Linked DNA regions of Homo sapiens: regions 2, 3 and 4 are each linked to region 1. Evidence: fine-mapped expression QTL. A gene starts in region 1. Each other region holds a variant in brackets. All regions are shown on one strand. Distances are between the middles of the regions.

Region 1 (5,153 bases):
TAATCTTCATTGAGGCATGATTTACAGAGCTGTTGGCCATGATTTCAATGTTAATAAATCAACCAAATATATTAAATAAGGTGTATTTAAACTGCAACAGACATAAAACAAGGTTGTATCTTGATCAGTTGACAAAAATGTTGTGAACAGCAGCTTTCAGGAATCTAACACCATAGTAGGAGCAGTGGTTCAGTGTTTGCTAATCCAGTTTTCACGGTGACTTTTTGCAACATAACTAATTATATAAAAATAACAACAGAGAGACGGACGGATTTATTAAAAAGACACTGCAGAGGTCATTATGAGTAAACTACCAATGTTTGCAGGAGCATGGCAAAAACACTTCAGGGCACAGTATCTACTGAGTCTTCCTGGCTCTGTTTAAACAACTTTGGGCCAAAACAAAAAATGCAAAATCTACCAAGTCTGTGCTTTGGTCTATCTTAGCTTCTACCGCTTTGCCTACTCAGTGGTATCCCTCTCCCCAAATCAAGTACTCTAAACTTGAATGCATTTTCACAAGTACATGACCCAATCTTATGATCAGGCAGACCCATCAATTATTGATTAATCACGCTTAAATGCGAACTAGACTTGTGCTTAAACATCTTGTCTAAATTGTGGCACTATTTATTAGGAAGGGAGAGGGGATATTAAGCATCTGAAATAAGACCGGCCAGGATCAAAATTAAACTGATTATACATAGACAATTCCAGTTGTGTGGGTGATGGAGACAGAAAAAATACACAAGGAAAGAAAACCTAGGCCTTGGCCTCCCTTCTAGGAAATTAAAGCTGGGGTGTAGGATGGAGAAGTTTCATCTTCTAAAAGGATTTCTTCAGTCCTTGCTTCCTCCTAGCATTTGATTATTGACTTTTCAAGAGAAATGATACATTTATGGCAAAAGTCAGTGGAACACTCTAACAGTGACATTAGCGCTTGAAATAAACTTTTATTCTTCGTTGTGGTTGAACGAACTCTCCTTTTGAAATTCATCTTTATTACTTTCCAAAATTATTTTTTTATTGAAAATGGCTTGCTTAGGGTAGTGATAAGATATGCTTAGGGTAGTGAGTAATACAAGTTACAAATTCAAAATCTAATTTGTGAAATGTCAGTATTTTTTTTCTATTAAATAAAAGACCCATCTGGGATTTAGTGGAATGAGTGAGTGTAACACTACTCAAGCTACATTTCAATTAGTTACTAAAACAATTCAAAGACAGAATATGGCATTTGAGTGAAGAGCCATGTGCTTTTAAAACCTACAACACAATCTAAACCAATAATTGAAATTCATGTGTAATAAAGAGCTAGAAAACTTTATAGTATAGTAAATCTTTTATAAAGACCACTCACCACATATTCATTCTTCTGAAAAACTAAGGATCCTCCTTCTCCCACCTCTCCAAGTTTCGGCTAAGATCATTATTCTGAGCAATGGTTCACGAAACAATGATATGTACACTTGAATAATTCACGATTTCTTTCTCTTTCAAATATTTTATACAAAAATCTTCAGGTTTTTTCCCTTGTGCTAATTTACTGTTGTGTATAGCATTTCAAAAAATACAAGCGGAATCTCAGTCTACTGTTTTCAAACCACATCAACGTCTAACGCTCGGAGAACTGAATCCACTCTTCGATTTTTTTTATCTTAACCATAGAACTTAAAAGGGCCATTTATCAACAAAAAGTATTTCTTTTAAAGTGTTTATTTTGTAGTATCATTTTGCAACTAAAAACTCAAAGGCCAATGAAGCATGCAGCACACAGGGCAAGTATTTTCTACAAGGCAATTATGCCAGAAATACAAAACTAAATTCTAAGTTCTTCTTTTAAAATGGAGTAAACTTTTTTTGTAAGTAGACTTCTACCTGCCGTCATAACCTGTTCCAGATCATGAAGGACCGACCACAAAACCTCGTTAAGTGAAAGTTAACCTGCTTTTATATCACCTTTTAAACTACTATCAAAGAGACATACTGGGAGGGCATGAATAGCACCTTGTCCAACAGAGAAGATTCTAAATAACAAAGATAAATGGGCTCCAAGTTTACCTGCTCCTCAGTGCAACCTACTAACTGAATTTAGAGCAAAGGATCACCTCCAACACGCACACATGCACACAAATACATTGTTTTTCAACAGATGACTGAGCTGCAGCAAAGCCCAGCTTGACACCAGGGGCTGCAGGGTCCTATGCCCTGCAGCGCGGGTGGAGGCTTAGATGAAAAGGCCAACGCATGACACCCGTCTGAGCCACAGCTGGCAGAACGGAGCTTCAACCCTGTTCGATCTGACCCTCTAATGAGTCACTGGCCCAATCGTAACACCAACCCACTTCCTAGCCCGTCTACTACCTATTTTCTCGCGTCAAAAAGCACAGAAAATGATTTAAACTAGGCATGAGAGAACTGTGCACCGGCCGGGGCAGCCAGCGGCAAGAAAAGCCAGCTTAAGAGAGAAAGCCCGAGCCACTCTTTAGGAGCCCCCGCTGGCCCGGCAGCAGAGGAAGAATGGGGTATAAGAGTCAGTCCGGAGGGCGAGGACCCGGAGAAGCCGCCGCCACACCCCAACCCTCCCTCACCTGCCTGTCCGAGCCTCCCCGGGCGCCCGTACCTTCGGCCAGCGACTCTTCCAGGGTGACCTGGTGGCGGCCGACCGCGAACACCCGGACCCCCACGGACGAGCCGCCGGAGCCGCAGCCGGCCCCGGCCCCGGCCCCGCCAGCCCCGCCACCCGCCGCTCCGCCGCCGCTGCCGCCCTCCGACTTGGGCATCCGAGAGAACTTCTTCATGGTCCCGCCGGCGAGCTGGAGGGCGCAGGGAGCGTGCAAGGGCAAGTCCCCGGCCCGGCGCGCAGCCGGGCGTCCGCGAGGGGTCGCCGCCCCTGGCCCGTCCGAGCGTGCTGCGGCCCGCCAAGCCTCACATTCCGCGCTCCCCAAGCGCACAGCCTGGGCCCCGCCGCCCGCTCCGCGGCTCCGCTGCAGCTGCCCGGCTCCCGCAGAGGGCGGTGGGGAGGGCGGGGACGGGGCGGGGCGCGAGGGGGCGGGTCCGAATCCAGGGGCGACGCCGCCGCCTCCGCCAGTGCCCCGGGCGTCCCGCCGCCTCACTAAGCGCCTGGAGCGCGAGCCGGGGTAGAGGAAGAGAGCGAAAGAGGCTGGGCGGCCGGCCCCTCCAGGGAGTGGGCTAGACGTCTCAGGCCACAAACCCGCAGGACCGCAGCCCGTCGCGCCGCCGCCGCCCCGGCCGAACCCGCGCCGCCCGCCACTCGTGGCCGTTGGCGGGGGGGGGGGGGGGGCGCTGCTGCCAACCGCTCACTGAGGCCGGGCGACCCGCGCAGGCGCGCTGCCCGCGCCGCCGGAAGTGACGGTTCCGGCTCTTGTCACGTGGAGGGGGACCAAGGGAGGTGATTGTGGGGGTTGGGGACTAGGGCAAAGTCGGGGGTCCCGGGTCCGGGGTTGCGCCGGGAGGGTACTGGCCAGGCCCGACTTCAAGCAGGGAGGTGGCCCGGGACTGGCTCCCGCGCTGGTCACGCACCGGGGTCCGTCATCTCGACCGGGAGTCGCTGTGCCACTCTAGGGGCTTAAAAATGCCGCCAACAACTTTACCCCTGCTGAGGAACTTCTCGCTTCGTTTCTTAGCCAGTTTTCCAGGCCTTCTCCCTTGAGAGTCTCCTTCCGCTCGCCCACCCTGAGCGTAGGAGGTGGGAGCAGGACGGAACTGGAGTGGATTCCAGTAACTGGACTTCTAAACCGGCTCGGTGTCGTCGCGCTCTGTAGCGGACGCTTGTGCTGGGAAGCGTTTTGCAGTTTATAAATTACTTAGGAGTACTTTAAACATCTCACGCCTGCTGTACCACAGCCATGTGGGGGTATTCAGAACAGGTATTAAGGTCGTTTTGCAGACCATTCATCACTCTTGGCTAAAAGAACTTAACGGAGTCGCCCAAGGTCACACAGCTGGCTCGTGGTAATTGGGGACCATTCTTTGATTCATAATTTTGTGCTTTTGGCCACCCTGAAAAAGTAAGGTCAGATCGTTGAAAAACGGGCAGATTTAAGGCTGTTTGGAAGCAAAAGCGACCACTGCGTTCCCCTCAAATCAAAGAGATTTGCACCCCCTACCAAAAAAAAAAAAAAAAAAAAAAGCCCTGTTGTATCAATTTCATAAACTGCAGGAGTCTCCCGACTGCAGGGTGAAGCAACAAAATAAATATGGGTGTAAAACATTCAGGAGTGGTAGGGAATGGCAAACTGTAGAGCCTGTGTAAAGAGAGCAGCCAATTCTCAGCTCCAGCCTACTTTTCCACAAAAGAAGATAGGCACACACACTGTGCCCAGAGGTTCCAGTTTCTTAAGAGAACCAAAAACCTGGAACTGTTTTCTAATGTGGCATTTCCCTAATTTTTAAAATATAGATCAAATAAATTGTATCTGCAGGACTCCAGTATGCACCTTCTATGAAAGTAGATGAATGTGGTTCTATCCCCACCCCTATTTCTTTATTCTTTTTAATGAGATAACGGGTAGAAACATTAGAAAATGTGCTTAGACAAAAACTTTGAACTTAAAATCCTTGTTCTTTCTTCCCTGCTATTTGAAGAGAAGCTATTTCTGCCAACACTAAAATAGTGCTCTGGATTTAGGCATTTCTGCTACATAACCCACTAAACTAAAATTCTTCATCCAGAGACCTGACGTTTAAAGTAGATTCCAGCTTAGTGGAAGTGAGATTATATGTCAGATGATTGATGTGGTGTGGCAGTTGGGGATTTCCATTTAGAAACAAGCTGACCACTTTCGTTGCTGTGGGGCTTCATTGTGGAGTCTCATTCCTAAATTTGAATTGTTTTTTAAGCAGAATAATGGAAAGATTAAGTCATTTCATGCAATTCAAAACTGGAGTCAGACAAACATACAAAGTTTGGGCCTGATATAACTTCACCTGATCACAACAAGCCTGCTATAATAAGTTTCAAAGTTAGTTTACGAGGATCACTTGAGGCCAGGAGTTCAAAACCAGCATGGTCAACATAACAAGACCTCATCTCTTTAAAAAAAAAAAAAAAAAAAATTAAAAATTAGCCAGGTATGGTGGTGGTGCACCTGTAATCCCAGCTACTCAGGAGGCTGAGGCAGGAGGATCGC
Region 2 (5,153 bases), 120 kb after region 1:
ATTTAAGTTTATGTCACTTTAATGCAGTTGTTTTTAAAGAAATAAAAACTTTGCATCAGAATCCAGAGCATATGTTTCTCATTTGGCTGCCATTCCTGCTTTGTGGCATGCAGAGTTCACTTCCCCAATCAGGACAGTTTTGGATGGCTGCTGCTCTTTCATAACCCAGCTGGTTTGTAATCCTCGTTAGGTTAGGGAATGAGCCCCTCAGACACTATTGCTCAGAATTCTTTAAAGTCTTAAGGCAGATTCTCTCTGGGTGCAGTAGCTGACACCCATGATGTGCTCTAACACTTGGGACAGTGGGGTGGAAGGATCACTTGAGCCCAGGAGTTTGAGACCAGCCTGGGAAACATAATCAGACCCCATCTCTAAAAAATAAAGAATAAAAAATTAGCTGGGCATAGTGGTATGCACCAGTAATTCCTGGGGGTCAGGGGTCAGGGGCTGAGGCTGAGGCAGGAAGATCTCTTTAGCCCACGAAGTCAAGTCTGCAGTGAGCTACAATCACACTGGTGCACTCTATCTAGCCTAGATGACAGAGTAAGACCCTGTCACACACACAAAAGGCAAACTCTAAATGAACAGAAAGACCTACATATACTTATATGGATGAAGGCAACACAGAACACCAAGAGGCTTCCACTCAGAGCACAATCATGTTGTTGGGAATTTGAGGGCAGATGTAGAAAGATACACATGCTGTGACCACAGTGCAAGGACACTTTTCTTTGTTGGTAAAAATTCAGGGATGCCTTATTTTATGCTGACGCTCAAATCAATATGCTTACTGGTAAATGCTCCTGGGCTAAGGCTGTTAGAAGATGGAACGCTGCTGTTAGCTTGCTTCCATACAGAATGGATTTCTAGACTTCCATAATTTTATTTGATTTGGATTAATGGGGCTTGAATATATTCATGTGATAAAACAACTGAAAATCATGTTGCTCTTTGTAGGATAAAATGAAATATAAATAGATTGTTAAAAAAATCCAGTTTATAATTTTGTTTTGAATCATATACTATTGTATACTATTATAGGAGAATGATAATATTCTTAAAACCAAAGGAATATGTAAAAGGTATGGAGAAAAATGTGTAATTGAGAACATTCTATCCATTAACATCTTTTTTCTGTAATATTTTGTGTGGAAAAGATAGCTAGTTGCCTAACCTTGATTCTTATCCCAGCAGAATAGCTCTCAAGACAAAAACTACATTTCCTAGTCACCCCTGTGGCTAACTGTGGCCACGTGACTAATCTCTGTCAAAGATATGAAAGCATAATTCCTAGATAAAACGTTTAGAAGGGCTACTTAACACAATTTTACTCAGCTGGGGGTGATACTTTCTGCATCTCCTTCTTATTTTGGCTTGCAATGCAGGTGTGATAACTGGAGCTTCAGCAGCCCAGAGATGACCTTAATAATAAAAGCCATGTGTTAAGATAATAGAGAAAAGAGCCTGGGGGTCCCAGATGATATTATGGAGTGGCCATAGCTAGATAGTTTCTCTTCCAACTCCTTTTATCTGAGAAAAGAAACCCCCAAATTCCAGCTTGCTTTAGGCTTTGGTAGTTTGCTTTTTTTTTTTTTTTAAATGTGCAGCAAAACCTAATCCTGATATATTAGCAATAAAATCCTCTACTCCCAGTCCTAGCATTGAATTTCAGAACCCAAACACCTAAAACTACTGATAATCAGTATAAGAGTATAATTTGAGAACCATGAGTTTGGTTCTTGTCTGTGGATTTTCACTGAAAAAATTATAAAAATAATTATTGAAACTAACTTCTATTTTTATCGTTGTAAGTCTTGCTTTCACTGAAAAAAAGAAAAGAATAGGTAAGTGGCACTGGATCTCATTTGCATTTTCTTTCTCTGTCTCTGTCTGTCTCTCTCTCTGTCTCTCTCTGCCTCTCTCTCTCTCTGCCTCTCTCCCCAAGTAATATTCAGCAATGATGTAAGTTTTGTTCTGGTCAAAGTATTTATTTACTTATTTTTCGC[A/G]TATCTATCTAACACTTTAAGTTCATTAAGTATACCCACATAATTATCTCTTATGATTCTCATAATAGATCCATGAAGTAGGCAAGACAAACATATTTCCATTTCTACCAAAGTGGAAACTGGGTTTTCATCCTCATTACATCAATTTGAGGCAGATGGGACTATTATCTCTAACATACATAAAGCAGAATCATGAAATGATCACATCATTTCACCCAGTGCCTTGAATACAAGCTGGCATTCAATACATACTTGCTGGATGCCTGGTTGAGTGCCTGGGTAAGTGAGTGAATAAGGAAAATGATGCAGGGAAATTAAAGGAGGTATCAGAGTCACAACATTGGAATTAAAATGAGGGGTTTTCACTTCTATTCTAGTTCTTTTTTCATTAATTATACCGTGTTGCCTCTCCCTAGAAATTCATTCTTCAATTTGCTGAGTTGTCCATTTGAGTGTACTGTGAGTGGAAGGCAGTTTTCAGATGGTCATCAATGGTGAACTTCAGCTGATGTCCCAGCACAACATTGTACACACCACAAAACAGTTTGCTTCCACTGGCAGCTCTCCCAATCCTCACATATTAATGCTTTGCCAACAGCTATTGTCTTTGACAAGTGACTGTGCTGGCAACATAGCATTTCCTTAAACAAAGCCCTTCACATGGATAGCCAGCAAGGAGTCCCATTTCTAGCTTTGCCTGATACCCTCACACAGCTAGAGTATTTGTTTTACTTGGGAAAATGTTCCAGGAGGCTCTGTGCTTGTGGTAATTGTTGTGGTTTAACAACAGTTTAAAGATTTGAACTAGGAAACATAACAGCCCCAGTGGATCCTAACATTTAGAACATTTTCTTTCTTCTGAAGGAGCTAAGAAATAAACAAGAGCCAGAAAAATCTGAAATTATCACCCTGGGTTATTCTAAGATGTGTGTCTGAAGTGAATTTACATTTTTTTTTTTTTTTGGCAGACAACTGAGACAAATATTAAATGATTTCTCCTAAGTCACCTAATTTGTCAAGCTATTAGCTATAAAGTCTAAGTCAGGGTGTTCAAGGCTTCCCTGGGCCACATTGGAAGAAAAATTGTCTTGGGCCACACATAAAATACACTAACACCAATGATAGCTGATGAGCTTAAAAAAAATCGCAAAACAATCTCATAATGTTTAAGAAAGTTTACAGATTTGTTCTAGGCCATATTCAAAGATGTCCTGGACCACATGCAGTCTGTGGGCCGTGGGTTGGACAAGCTTGGTCTAGGTCCTATACTACTCAGTTAGCTAGTGGATGGAATTCTAAGCCTGCCATTTGCTGGCTGTGCAAAATTGGAGAAATTAATATTTCTCTCTGAACCTCAGTTTGATTTTTTTTTGTTTTTTGAGACAAGGTCTTGCTCTGTCACCCAGGCTGGAGTGCTGTGGCACAATCATGACTCACTGCAGCCTTGATTTCTTAGGCTCAAGTGATCCTCCCAGATCAGCGTCTTGAGTAGCTGAGATTACAGGTGTGTGTCACCATGCCCAGATAAATTTTTAATTTTTTGTAGAGAGAGAGTCTTGCTGTGTTGCCTATGCTGGTCTCAAAATCCTGGGCTCAAGCCGTCCTCTTGCCTTGGCCTCCCAAAGTGCTGAGATTACCAGCATGAGTCATTTCACCAGGCCCGAACCTCAATTTGTATATATTCATAGCTGGAATAATGTTTCTTGACTCAAAAGTTGTCAAAAGTTTAAATGAGATGTAAGGGGTTTAGAAATTTAGAAGTCACTCGATTCCATGTTAGTTTCTTTCCTTCCCCCACTAAATCTATTTCTAGAACCCCTTGCCATATTTTGTGACCAAGGAGAAGCACTGAGAAATCCAAAATAAGCTTTATCAAAGCATTCTAATTTGCTTTAGTATAGACAAGTTTAAAATTTCCCATAACATGTATAATTCACAAAAATACCTAAGAGGATCTAGAAAACAATTGGCCTGGTTTACTTCACCTGTGATAATTCTGGTTCTTTGGTGTATTATACTTTTGGCCAGGATTCTGTAATAGGACTCAGAAAATTGAGTGAAAACATCTTGGTGCCAATGACTTTCTCACAATCTGGACCCAAAAGTCCTTACCTATCTATGCCTTTTCATAGCATGCCCATACTTTATTCAGCAAGTGTATTTGAAGCACCAAGTATGTGCCAGGCACTATCTAGGTGCTAAGTATACAGCAATGATCAAAATAGATAAAAGAACTGTCTGTCAGTAGGGGCAGACAGACAATAAACCAAATAAGTGAGGTCTGTTGGTGAGTGATAAGCATGATGGAGAAAAATAAGGTAGAAAGAGAGACATGGAGTGTTGGGGGCAGGAGTTTGCAATTAAACATGGTAGGAAAGTCGCATGAGAAGATGAACAAGTAAAGACATAAAGGAGGTAGGAAATGAGCTCTGCAGAAATCTGGAAGAGCAGAAAGCATGGGAAGTACATAGACCCTGAGGCAGGAAAGTGCCTGGCATATTTATAGAACAGTAAGAAGGCCAGTGTGGCTGCAGCAGAGACAAACAAAGGAGAAAATAGCAGGACATGAAGTGAGATGGGTAAGGAGATGGGGAGGGGGCAGATTGTGTATGGCCATTATAAGGACTTTGTATTTTACTCTGAGTGAAATGGAAGTATTTGGTAGGTTTGAGAAATGACATGATCTGACCTATGTTTTAAAAGAACTATTTCAACCGCTGGGTTGTGAAATAGGCTGAAAAGCAGTGAGATCAGCAAGGAGATGGTTGCAGTATCCAGTGAGACATGATGCAAATATTTGCTGATGGATGGGATGTGGGGTGTGAGAGACAGAGATAAATCAAAAAGGACTCCAAGTTTTTTGGCATGAGAAAGTAAAAAGATGGCGTTGCCTTCAACTTATGTGCACAAGACTACAGGAAAAACAGGTTTGGAGGCAGATCAGCAGTCTGGTATTGGACATACACATTTGAGATGATTATTAGTCATCCAAAGAGAGATGTCATGTAGGAAATTAGATATCAAGTCAAGACACACGGGAGAAATCTGGGCTGGAGATATGAAAATGTGAGTGTTGTCAACCTATACATGGTATTGAAAGAAAAGAAGACAGATATTTATGTGCATAGAGACAGGCAAGTGGGTAAG
Region 3 (5,153 bases), 60 kb after region 1:
CAGCCCAAGGAACATCTCATCAATTTTAAATCAGGTAAGCAGCCTCTTCTTACTCTCTTCTCCAACCTCTCTCACTGTCCCTCAACCACTTTCTCCTTTCCACTCTTCAATCTCTCCCCTCTCTTAATTTCAATTCCTTTCATTTTCTGGGAGAGACAAAGGAGACACATTTTATCTGTGGACCCAAAACTCCGGCGCCGGTCACGGACTGGGAAGGCAGCCTTCCCTTGGTGTTTAATCATTGCAGGGACGCCTCTGTCATTATTCACCCATGTTTCAAAGGTGCCAGACCACGCAGGGACGCCTGCCTTGGTCCTTCACCCTTAGCAGCAAGTCCTGCTTTCCTGGGGAAGGGGCAAGTACCCCAACCCCTTCTCTCCTTGTGTCTACCCCTTCTCTGCTTTTCTGGGGGAGGGGCAAGTACCCCTCAACCCCTTCTCCTTCATTCTTAGCGGCAAGTCCCGCTTTTCTAGAAGAGGGGCAAGTACCCCAACCTCATATCTCTGCACCCCAATCCCTTATTTCCGTGCCCCAACCTCTTATATCTCTGTGCCCCAATCCCTTATTTCTGTGCCCCGACCTCTTATCTCTGCACCCCAATCCCTTATTTCCATGCCCCGATCCCTTATTTCCATGCCCTGATCCCTTATTTCTGTGCCCCAACCCCTTATTTCTGCACCCCATCCCTTATTTCCATGCCCTGACCTCCTATCTCTGTGCCCCAACCCCTTTTCCCACTTTTCTGGAAGGTAAGAACCCCCGAACCCCTTCCCTCCATTTCTCTACTCTCTCTTTTCTCTAGGCTTGCTTCCTTCATTATCATCAACCTTCCACCCTCCATTCCTCCTTCTACTCCCTTGGCCTGTGTTCTCAAAAACTTAAAACCTCTTCAACTCACACCTGACCTAAAACCTAAATGCCTTATTTTCTTCTGCAATGCCGCTTGACCCCAATACAAACTCGACAGTAGTTCCAAATAGCCAGAAAATGGCACTTTGAATTTTTCCATCCTGCAAGATCTAAATAATTCTTGCCGTAAAATAGGCAAACGGTCTGAGGTGCCTGACGTCCAGGCATTCTTTTACACATCAGTCCCTTCCTAGTCTCTGTGCCCAGTGCAACTCTTCCCAAATCTTCCTTCTGTCCCTCCCGCCTGTCCCCTCAGTACCAACCCCAAGCGTCGCTGAGTCTTTCTAATCTTCCCTTTCTACAGACCCATCTGACCTCTCCCTTCCTCCCCAGGCTGCTCCTCGCCAGGCCGAGCTAGGTCCCAATTCTTCCTCAGCCTCTGCTCCTCCACCCTATAATCTTTTTATCATCTCCCCTCCTCACACCTGGTCTGGCTTACAGTTTCGTTCCATGACTAGCCCTCCCCCTCCTGCCCAGCAATTTACTCTTAAAAAGGTGGCTGGAGATAAAGGCATAGTCAAGGTTAATGCTCCTTTTTCTTCATCCCAAATCAGAAGCGTTTAGGCTCTTTTTCATCAAATATAAAAATCCAGCCCAGTTCATGACTTGTTTGGCAGCAACCCTGAGACACTTTACAGCCCTAGACCCTAAAAAGTCAAAAGGCCGTCTTATTCTCAAAATACATTTTATTACCCAATCTGCTCCCAACATTAAATAAAACTCCAAAAATTAAATTCCCGCCCTCAAACCCCACAACAGGATTTAATTAACCTCGCCTTCAAGGTGTACAATAATAGAAAAAAGTTGCAATTCCTTGCCTCCACTGTGAGACAAACCCCAGCCACATCTCCAGCACACAAGAACTTCCAAACACCTGAACTGCAGCGACCAGGCGTTCCTCCAGAACCTCCTCCCACAGGAGCTTGCTACACGTGCCGGAAATCTGGCCACTAGGCCAAGGAATGCCTGCAGCCTGGGATTCCTATTAAGCCGCATCCCATCTGTGTGGGACCCCACTGAAAATCGGACTGTTCAACTCACCTGGCAGCCACTCCCAGAGCCCCTGGAACTCTGGCCCAAGGCTCTCTGACTGACTCCTTCCCAGATCTTCTCGGCTTAGCGGCTGAAGACTGACACTGCCTGATCACCTCGGAAGCCCCCTAGACCATCACGGACGCCAAGCTCCCAGTAACTCTCACAGTGGAAGGTAAGCCCATCCCCTTCTTAATCAATATGGAGGCTAC[C/T]CACTCCACATTACCTTCTTTTCAAGGGCCTGTTTCCCTTGCCTCCATAACTGTTGTGGGTATTGACAGCCAGGCTTCTAAACCTCTTAAAACTCCCCATCTGGTGCCAACTTAGACAATACTCTTTTAAGCACTCCTTTTTAGTTATCCCCACCTGCCGGGTTCCCTTATTAGGCTGAGACACTTTAACTAAATTATCTGCTTCCCTGACTATTCCTGGACTACAGCTATATCTCATTGATGCCCTTCTTCCCAATCCAAAGCCTCCTTTGTGTCCTCCTCTTGTATCTCCCCATCTTAACCCACAAGTATAAGATACCTCTACTCCCTCCTTGGTGACCGATCATGCACCCCTTACCATCTCATTAAAACCTAATCACCCTTACCCCACTCAACGCCAATATCCCATCCCGCAGCACACTTTAAAAAGATTAAAGCCTGTTATCACTCGCCTGCTACAGCATGGCCTTTTAAAGCCTATAAACTCTCCCTACAATTCCCCCATTTTACCTGTCCTAAAACCAGAGAAGCCTTACAAGTTAGTTCAGGATCTGCGCCTTATCAACCAAATTGTTTTGCCTATCCACCCCACGGTGCCAAACCCATATACTCTCCTATCCTCAATACCTGCCTCTACAACCCATTATTCTGTTCTAGATCTCAAACATGCTTTCTTTACTATTCCTTTGCACCCTTAATCCCAGCCTCTCTTCGCTTTCACTTGGACTGACCCTGACACCCATCAAGCTCAGCAAATTACCTAGGCTGTACTGCCGCAAAGCTTCACAGACAGCCCCCATTACTTCAATCAAGCCCAAATTTCTTCCTCATCTGTTACCTATCTCGGCATAATTCTCATAAAAACTCACGTGCTCTCCCTGCCAATCGTGTCCGACTGACCCCTCAAACCCCAGCACCTTCTACAAAACAACAACTCCTTTCCTTCCTAGGCATGGTTAGCGCGGTCAGAATTCTTACACAAGAGCCAGGACCACACCCTGTAGCCTTTCTGTCCAAACTTGACCTTACTGTTTTAGCCTAGCCCTCATGTCTGCGTGCAGCAGCTGCCACTGCTGTAATACGTTTAGAGGCCCTCAAAATCACAAACTATGCTCAACTCACTCTCTACAGTTCTCATAACTTCCAAAATCTATTTTCTTCCTCATACCTGACACATATACTTTCTGCTTCCCGGCTCCTTCAGCTGTACTCACTCTTTGTTAAGTCTCCCACAATTACCATTGTTCCTGGCACGGACTTCAATCCGGCCTCCCACATTATTTCTGATACCACACCTGACCCCCATGGCTGTATCTCTCTGATCCACCTGACATTCACCCCATTTCCCCATATTTCCTTCTTTCCTGTTCCTCACCCTGATCACGCTTGATTTATTGATGGCAGTTCCACCAGGCCTAATCGCCACACACCAGCAAAGGCAGGCTATGCTATAGCACAAGCCACTAGCCCGCCTCTTAGAACCTCTCATTTCCTTTCCATCGTGGAAATCTATCCTCAAGGAAATAATTTCTCAGTGTTCCATCTGCTATTCTACTACTCCTTAGGGATTCTTCAGGCCCTCTCCCTTCCCTACACATCAAGCTCAAGGATTTGCCCCCACCCAGGACTGGCAAATTAGCTTTACTCAACATGCCCAAGTCAGGAAACTAAAATACCTTGTAGTCTAAATAGACACTTTCACTGAATAAGTAAAGGCCTTTCCTACAGGGTCTGAGAAGGCCACCACAGTCATTTCTTCTGTTCTGTCAGACATAATTCCTCAGTTTAGCCTTCCCACCTCAATACAGTCTGATAACAGATGAGCCTTTATTAGTCAAATCAGCCAAGCAGTTTTTCAGGCTCTTAGTATTCAGTGAAACCTTTATATCCCTTATGGTCCTCCATCTTCAAGAAAAGTAGAATGGACTAAAGGTCTTTTAAAAACACACCTCACCAAGCTCAGCCACCAACTTAAAAAGGATTGGACAATACTTTTACCACTTTCCCTTCTCAGAATTCAGGCTTATCCTCGGAATGCTACAGGATACAGCCCATTTAAGCTCCTGTATAGACGCTCCTTTTTATTAGGTCCCAGTCTCATTCCAGACACCAGACCAACTTAGACTGTGCCCCAAAAAACTTGTCATCCCTACTACCTTCTGTCTAGTCATACTCCTATTCACCGTTCTCAACTACTCAAACATGCCCTGCTCTTGTTTACACTGCCGGTTTACACTGTTTTTCCAAGCCATCACAGCTGATATCTCCTGGTGCTATCCCCAAACTGCCACTCTTAACTCTTGAAGTAAATAAATAATCTTTGCTGGCAGGACTATGCTGAATCTCCTTAGGCAGTCTCTAATCAGATATCCTGAGTCATCCCAATTCTTAGACCTTTTATACCTGTTTTTCTCCTTTTGTTATTCCATTTAGTTTTTCAATTCATACAAAACCGTATCCAGGCCATCATCAATCATTCTATATGACAAATGTTTCTTCTAACATCCCCACAATATCACCCCTTACCACAAGACCTCCCTTCAGCTTAATCTCTCCCACTCTAGGTTCCCACGCCGCCCCTAATCCCGCTTGAAGCAGCCCTGAGAAACATCGCCCATTCTCTCTCCATACCACCCCCCAAAAATTTTCGCTGCCCCAACACTTCGACACTATTTTGTTTTATTTTTCTTATTAATATAAGAAGGCAGGAATGTCAGGCCTCTGAGCCCAAGCCAAGCCATCGCTTCCCCTGTGACTTGCACGTATATGCCCAGATGGCCTGAAGTAACTGAAGAATCACAAAAGAAGTGAATATGCCCTGCCCCACCTTAACTGATGACATTCCACCACGAAAGAAGTGAAAATGGCCGGTCCTTGCCTTAAGTGATGACATTACCTTGTGAAAGTCCTTTTCCTGGCTCATCTTGGCTCAAAAATCACCCCCACTGAGCACCTTGTGACCCCCCACTCCTGCCCGCCAGAGAACAAACCCCCTTTGAC
Region 4 (5,153 bases), 170 kb before region 1:
AAAAATGAAAACCATAAGATCATCTCAATAGATGCAGGAAAAGCCTTCAATAAAATCCAGCATCCCTTCATGGTAGAAACCCTCAACAGATTAGGCATTGAAGGAACATACATCCACATAATAAGAGCTATCTATGATAAACCTACAGCCAACATCATACTGAACAGTCCAAAAACGGGAACCATTCCCACTGAGAAGTGAAACAAGACAAGGATGCCTACTCTCACCATTCCTATTCGATATAGTACTGGAAGTCCTAGCCAGGGAAATCAGACAAGAGAAAGAAATAAAAGGCATCCAAATAGGAAAAGAAGAAGTCAAACTATCCCTTTGCCGAAAATATGATCCTATACCTAGAAAACCCTAAAGATTCTGCCAAAAGGCTCCTGGATCTGATAAACAAATTGAGTAAAGTTTCAGGATACAAAATCAAAGTACAAAAATCAGTAGCATTTTTACATCAACAGTGTTCTAGCTGAGAACCAAATTAAGAACACAATCTCATTTACTATAGACACAAAGAAAATGAAATACCTAAGAATCCATCTAATAAAGGAAGTGAAAGATCTCTATAATGAGAACTACAAAACACTGCTCAAATAAATCAGAAACAATACAAAGAAATATAAAATATTCCATGCTCATGGCTTGGAAAAATCAATATAGTTAAAACGGCCATACTACCCAAAGCAATTTACAGATTCAACTCCATTCCTATCAAAATACCAGTGTCATTTTTCACAGATTTAGAAAAAGCTATTCTAAAATTCATTTGGAACCAAAAAAGAGCCCGAATAGCCAAAGCAATCCTAACAAAAAGAACATATTCAGAGACATCCCACTATCTGACTTCAAACTATACTACAAGGCTACAGTAATCAAAACAACAGGGTAACGGTATAAAAACAGACACATACAACAGTGAACAGAATAGAGAACCCAGAAATAAGCCCACATACCTACAACCATCTGATCTTAGACAAAAATCAACAAAAACAAGCAATGGGGAATTGTGCTGGGATAAGCGGCTAGCCATATGCAGAAGAATAAAACTGGACCCCTACCTTTCACCGTATATGAAAATTGTCTCGAGATAGATTAAAGATTTAAATGTATGACCTCAAACTACAAAAAGCCTGGAAAAAGACCTAGGAAATACCCTTCTCAACATAGGCTTTGGCAAAGAATTTATGTTAATTGTGACAAAAACAAAAACTGACAAGTGGGACTTAATTAGAGAACTTCTGCACGGCAAAATGAATTACCAACAGATAAACAGACTACAGAATGGAAGAAAATATTTGCAAACTATGTATCTGACTAAGAACTAATATCTAGAATCTACAAGGAACTTTAAAAAAATAAACAAGCAAAAACCAAACAATCCAATTAAAAAATGGGCAAAGGACATGAACAGACATTTCTCAAAAGACGACACACAAGTGGCCAAAAAAAATATGAAAAAATGCTCAACATCAGTACTCATCAGAGAAATGCAAATCAAAACCACAATGAGATATCATCTCATACCAGTCAGAATGGTGGCGATTATTTAAAAGTCAAAAAGCAACAGAGGGTGAGTGATATGGTTTGGCTCTGTGTCACCACCCAAATCTCATCTCAAACTGTAATCTCCTCATGTCAAGGGAAGGACCCTGTGGGAGGTGACTGGATCATGGAAGCAGTTCTCCCATGCTGTTCTCATGATAGGAAGGGAGTTCTCAGAAGATCTGATAGCTTAAAAGTGGCAGTTTCCCCTGCCTGCTCTTTCTCTCCTACTGCCATGTAAGAAAGTGCTTGCTTTTCCTTTGCCTTCTGCCATGATTGTAAATTTCCCGAGGCCTTCCCAGCCATGTGGAACTGTGAGTCAACTAAACCTCTTTCCTTTATAAATTACCCAGTCTCAGGTAGTATCTTTATAGCAGTGTGAAAACAGACTAATACAGTGAGACTGTGGAGAAATGGGAATGCTTATATATTGTTGATGGGAATGTAAACTAGTTCAGCCACTGTGGAAAGTGGTTTGGAGATTTCTCAAGAAACCTAAAATAGAACTACCATCTGACCCAGCAATCCCACTACTGGGTATATACTCAAAGGAAAATAACTCATCCCGTCATAAAGACACATGCACCTGTATGTTCATTGCAGCACTATTCACAATAGCAAGGACATGAAATCAGCCTAAATACCCATCAACAATGGACTAAAGAAAATGTGGTACATATACACCACAGAATACTGAGTAGCCAAAAAAAAGAACAAAATCGTTCTTTCAGCGCTTTGCAGGAACATGGATGGAGCTGGAGATCATTATCCTAAGCGACCTGACCTAACACAAGAACAGAAAACCAAATACCACGTGTTCTCACAAGTGGGAGCTCAACATTGAATCCACGTGATTGTAAAAATGGGAAAAAGAGACACTGGGGATCACTAGATCGAGGAGGGAGAGAGGGGGGCATGGGCCAAAGAACCACCTGTTGGGTTCTATGCTTATTGCCTGGATGGCCTGAAGCCTCAGTGTCATGCAGTTTACCCATGTAAGAAACCTTCACAGGTACCCTTTCACCTATAATAAAAGTTGAAATGTTAAAAAAAATTACAGAGGTTTTTTTTCTCTCATTCTATATTTTCTCTCATTCTATAGTCTGTTTCTCTCATTCTATAGTCTGTTTACTCAAAATATTTTCTCTCATTCTATAGTCTGTTTACTCAAAAATGCTTGTTTGCAACATGTTTAAGAACCAAAGGGGAAAAAAATAGAGAAGGAAAGGTTGGAGACATATCTGAGAGAAGGATAATTGACAGAGCAAGGTCCATTAGGAAACGAAGGGGAGCATGATTCAGAAAATAGGCAGCAGGGTTGACCTTAAGTAGGAGGTGTTAAAGTAGTCATTTCTATTGAGACAGAGGAAAGGAAACAAAGAATGGGCTTTAATTGTGAGTGAACTTACAGGTGGAAGGCTAGCAGTAGAAAGCTGAGAGAGTTCCTACTCTATGACCTCTATTTTCTCTGTGAGATAGGAAACAGCTGA[T/C]TTGCTAAGGAAGAGGGGAGATGGGCACATATAATGTCAAGTAAACATTTAAAATATCCAAATGATGTTGAAGGTTCTGTAGAGATTGTAAACAACTTGTAGAAATACCAATCCATGCCATCCTGTCATTTTCTTTAGCAATATGGTTGTAGAATTAAAGAGGACATAGTTAAATTGATGAACTGCTTCTTTGTTTTTTCAGACAAGCTTAATTAGGCAGGGGAGTCAAAAATCATTGACAAGGAACTGGTTGCAGTGATGGGGAAGGAAGCAAAGGAGGTTACTAATAAAATTGTGCCAAGGGAAGAGATGACTGCAAGACTTTTGGCTTAAGAGGCTGAGTAAATAGAGATTTAGGGATGTAAATAGATTTAGGAGAAAATATAACAGTTCATTTGTAATATTTCAGGTTTCTATGTCCGGCTCCACATGCAAATCCAGATGCATAGAAAGGAGATCCAACCTGAAAAAGACAGTAACTGAAGCCATGGAAATATAAAGGGAAAAAATAGAATTTACAACACTGAAGAAGGAATCCTGAAAACATTCGGAAGGGTCAGACAGAGAAACAGTGGCTATAAAGTCCCTTGGGACTTTATAGACAAGCCAGAAAGATAAGGAAAAGAGTCCAGATGAGGGTGGTCCCAAAAGTCCAGAAAAGAGAGTTCAATGGTAGAGTGATCAAAATGTTAGTGCTGCTGAAATCTGCAAAGGTTGTTGTCTAAAATTTGTCTTATTCATCTCTGTTAGCATATAGGAAAATGTGTGGCACATTGTCAGAATTCAGTAAATGTAAAGTTCTGTGTTGTGGACATCTCAATACCTGCAAATCTCACTCCAACACTGTTTGAATTGTAACAAATGCAGAAAGGGCAAGGAAGGAAGGAAGGAAGGGAAGGAGGGAAGGAGGGGAGGGGAGGAGAGGGGAGGCGATCTGTCTTACCCCAAAGGCCCCATTCAGCCCCCATGTCTCCTGTCCCCAGGCTCCTGCTCCCACTTGGAAATTCAGGACTTCAGCTCCTTGAGAACTGCATCCCATTCCCATCCACACCACCTCAAGCATCTCTAAAATCCAGGATTTGTCTCGCAGTTGTTCATGATAGGGTGCTACCATTTTCCCATTATCTTTGACTGGACAGTTCAGTTCCCCAACCTGCCACTTCAAGAGGCACCAAAGTCTCCTGCTGGATGCTGTCGATCTCCACCTATCACAGATGCTGGTGCCTCACCAAGTGCATCAACAAGTTTTATTCTTCCACCAGACATGCTGCTGAAGATCTCTGTTAAGCACCATGACTAAACAGCCAGAGCCCTCAAAGTGCCACAATGTCATTGTTATCTGTGGGGAAATGCGCCCTCTCACCTTTGTGTTACCCTCTGTTAGAGGTGTCCCAAAGCAGTGTTGCTCCTGCTTCCATTGTCTTACAGATTTGAATAGAAGAGCTCTTTCCATTTCTATTATTTTGTTTTTTTACCTATAGATCTCTTTCTCACTCTAGGACTCAGGCATGGATTGTTGCTATATCTACCTTTTCATATTTGTTTGTGAATTTTATAAGTGTTTTTTTAGTGCTTGTTGTTAGAGTGCATAACTGGAAAGTTAAGTCATGTAAATGGACTAGGGAGAACTGAAAAAGGCCATAAATTGTTGAAATAAATCCAGAAGTCATTTTGCAAAAGGTTTCATGGGTACACTGCTGAAGACCAAAGCAGTTCCCATTTTTAGGGTTTTTTTTTTTTTTTTTTGAGACGGAGTCTCGCTCTGTCACCCAGGCTGGAGTGCAGTGGCGCAATCTCGGCTCACTGCCAGCTCCACCTCTCGGATACATGCTATTCTCCTGCCTCAGCCTTCCATGTAGCTGGGACTACAGGCACCCGCTACCACACCCGGCTAATTTTTTGTATTTTTAGTAGAGACAGGGTTTCACGGTGTTACCCAGGATGGTCTCAATCTCCTGACCTCGTGATCCGCCTGCCTCGGCCTCCCAAAGTGCCATTTTTAGTTCTTTACTCTAGTGTCCCATCATTATCATAACTCAGCTACTTTCTCTGTGTCTGATAATCTCTGGGCATCTTTCTACTTTGTTTCAAATAACAGGCTACGGATTCTCTTCC

The links. PIP is the estimated chance that this variant, and not a neighbour inherited with it, causes the effect.
Region 2: its variant is the best candidate, but not a certain one, in a credible set for the expression of BMP2K in whole blood (TOPMed, PIP 0.56).
Region 3: its variant is the best candidate, but not a certain one, in a credible set for the expression of BMP2K in blood mononuclear cells (TOPMed, PIP 0.69).
Region 4: its variant is the best candidate, but not a certain one, in a credible set for the expression of BMP2K in whole blood (TOPMed, PIP 0.73).

Annotation. Positions count from the first base shown.
Region 1 is chr4:78,774,192-78,779,344 of GRCh38, reverse strand. BMP2K (BMP2 inducible kinase) reads right to left here and starts at 2,995. Exons shown (of 16, transcript NM_198892.2): 1 at 2,624-2,995. The coding sequence starts at 2,801. It overlaps BMP2K-DT (BMP2K divergent transcript), which reads left to right and starts at 3,375. Exons shown (of 1, transcript NR_186689.1): 1 at 3,375-5,153. RefSeq lists silencers at 2,091-2,291, 2,653-3,322, 3,413-3,662 and enhancers at 1,866-2,496, 3,129-3,759.
Region 2 is chr4:78,649,976-78,655,128 of GRCh38, reverse strand. The region is part of intron 1 of LINC01094 (long intergenic non-protein coding RNA 1094); the gene reads right to left. Among named protein-coding and RNA genes, the nearest start is that of LINC01094, 6.6 kb to the right of the region's middle. The variant A/G (reference allele first, on the strand shown) is at 2,007.
Region 3 is chr4:78,714,005-78,719,157 of GRCh38, reverse strand. It overlaps LOC101928893 (a long non-coding RNA gene), which reads right to left and starts at 3,077. Exons shown (of 3, transcript NR_188357.1): 1 at 3,023-3,077. RefSeq lists enhancers at 1-72, 73-644, 3,395-4,341. The variant C/T (reference allele first, on the strand shown) is at 2,154.
Region 4 is chr4:78,942,274-78,947,426 of GRCh38, reverse strand. No RefSeq gene overlaps it. Among named protein-coding and RNA genes, the nearest start is that of PAQR3, 5.4 kb to the right of the region's middle. The variant T/C (reference allele first, on the strand shown) is at 3,039.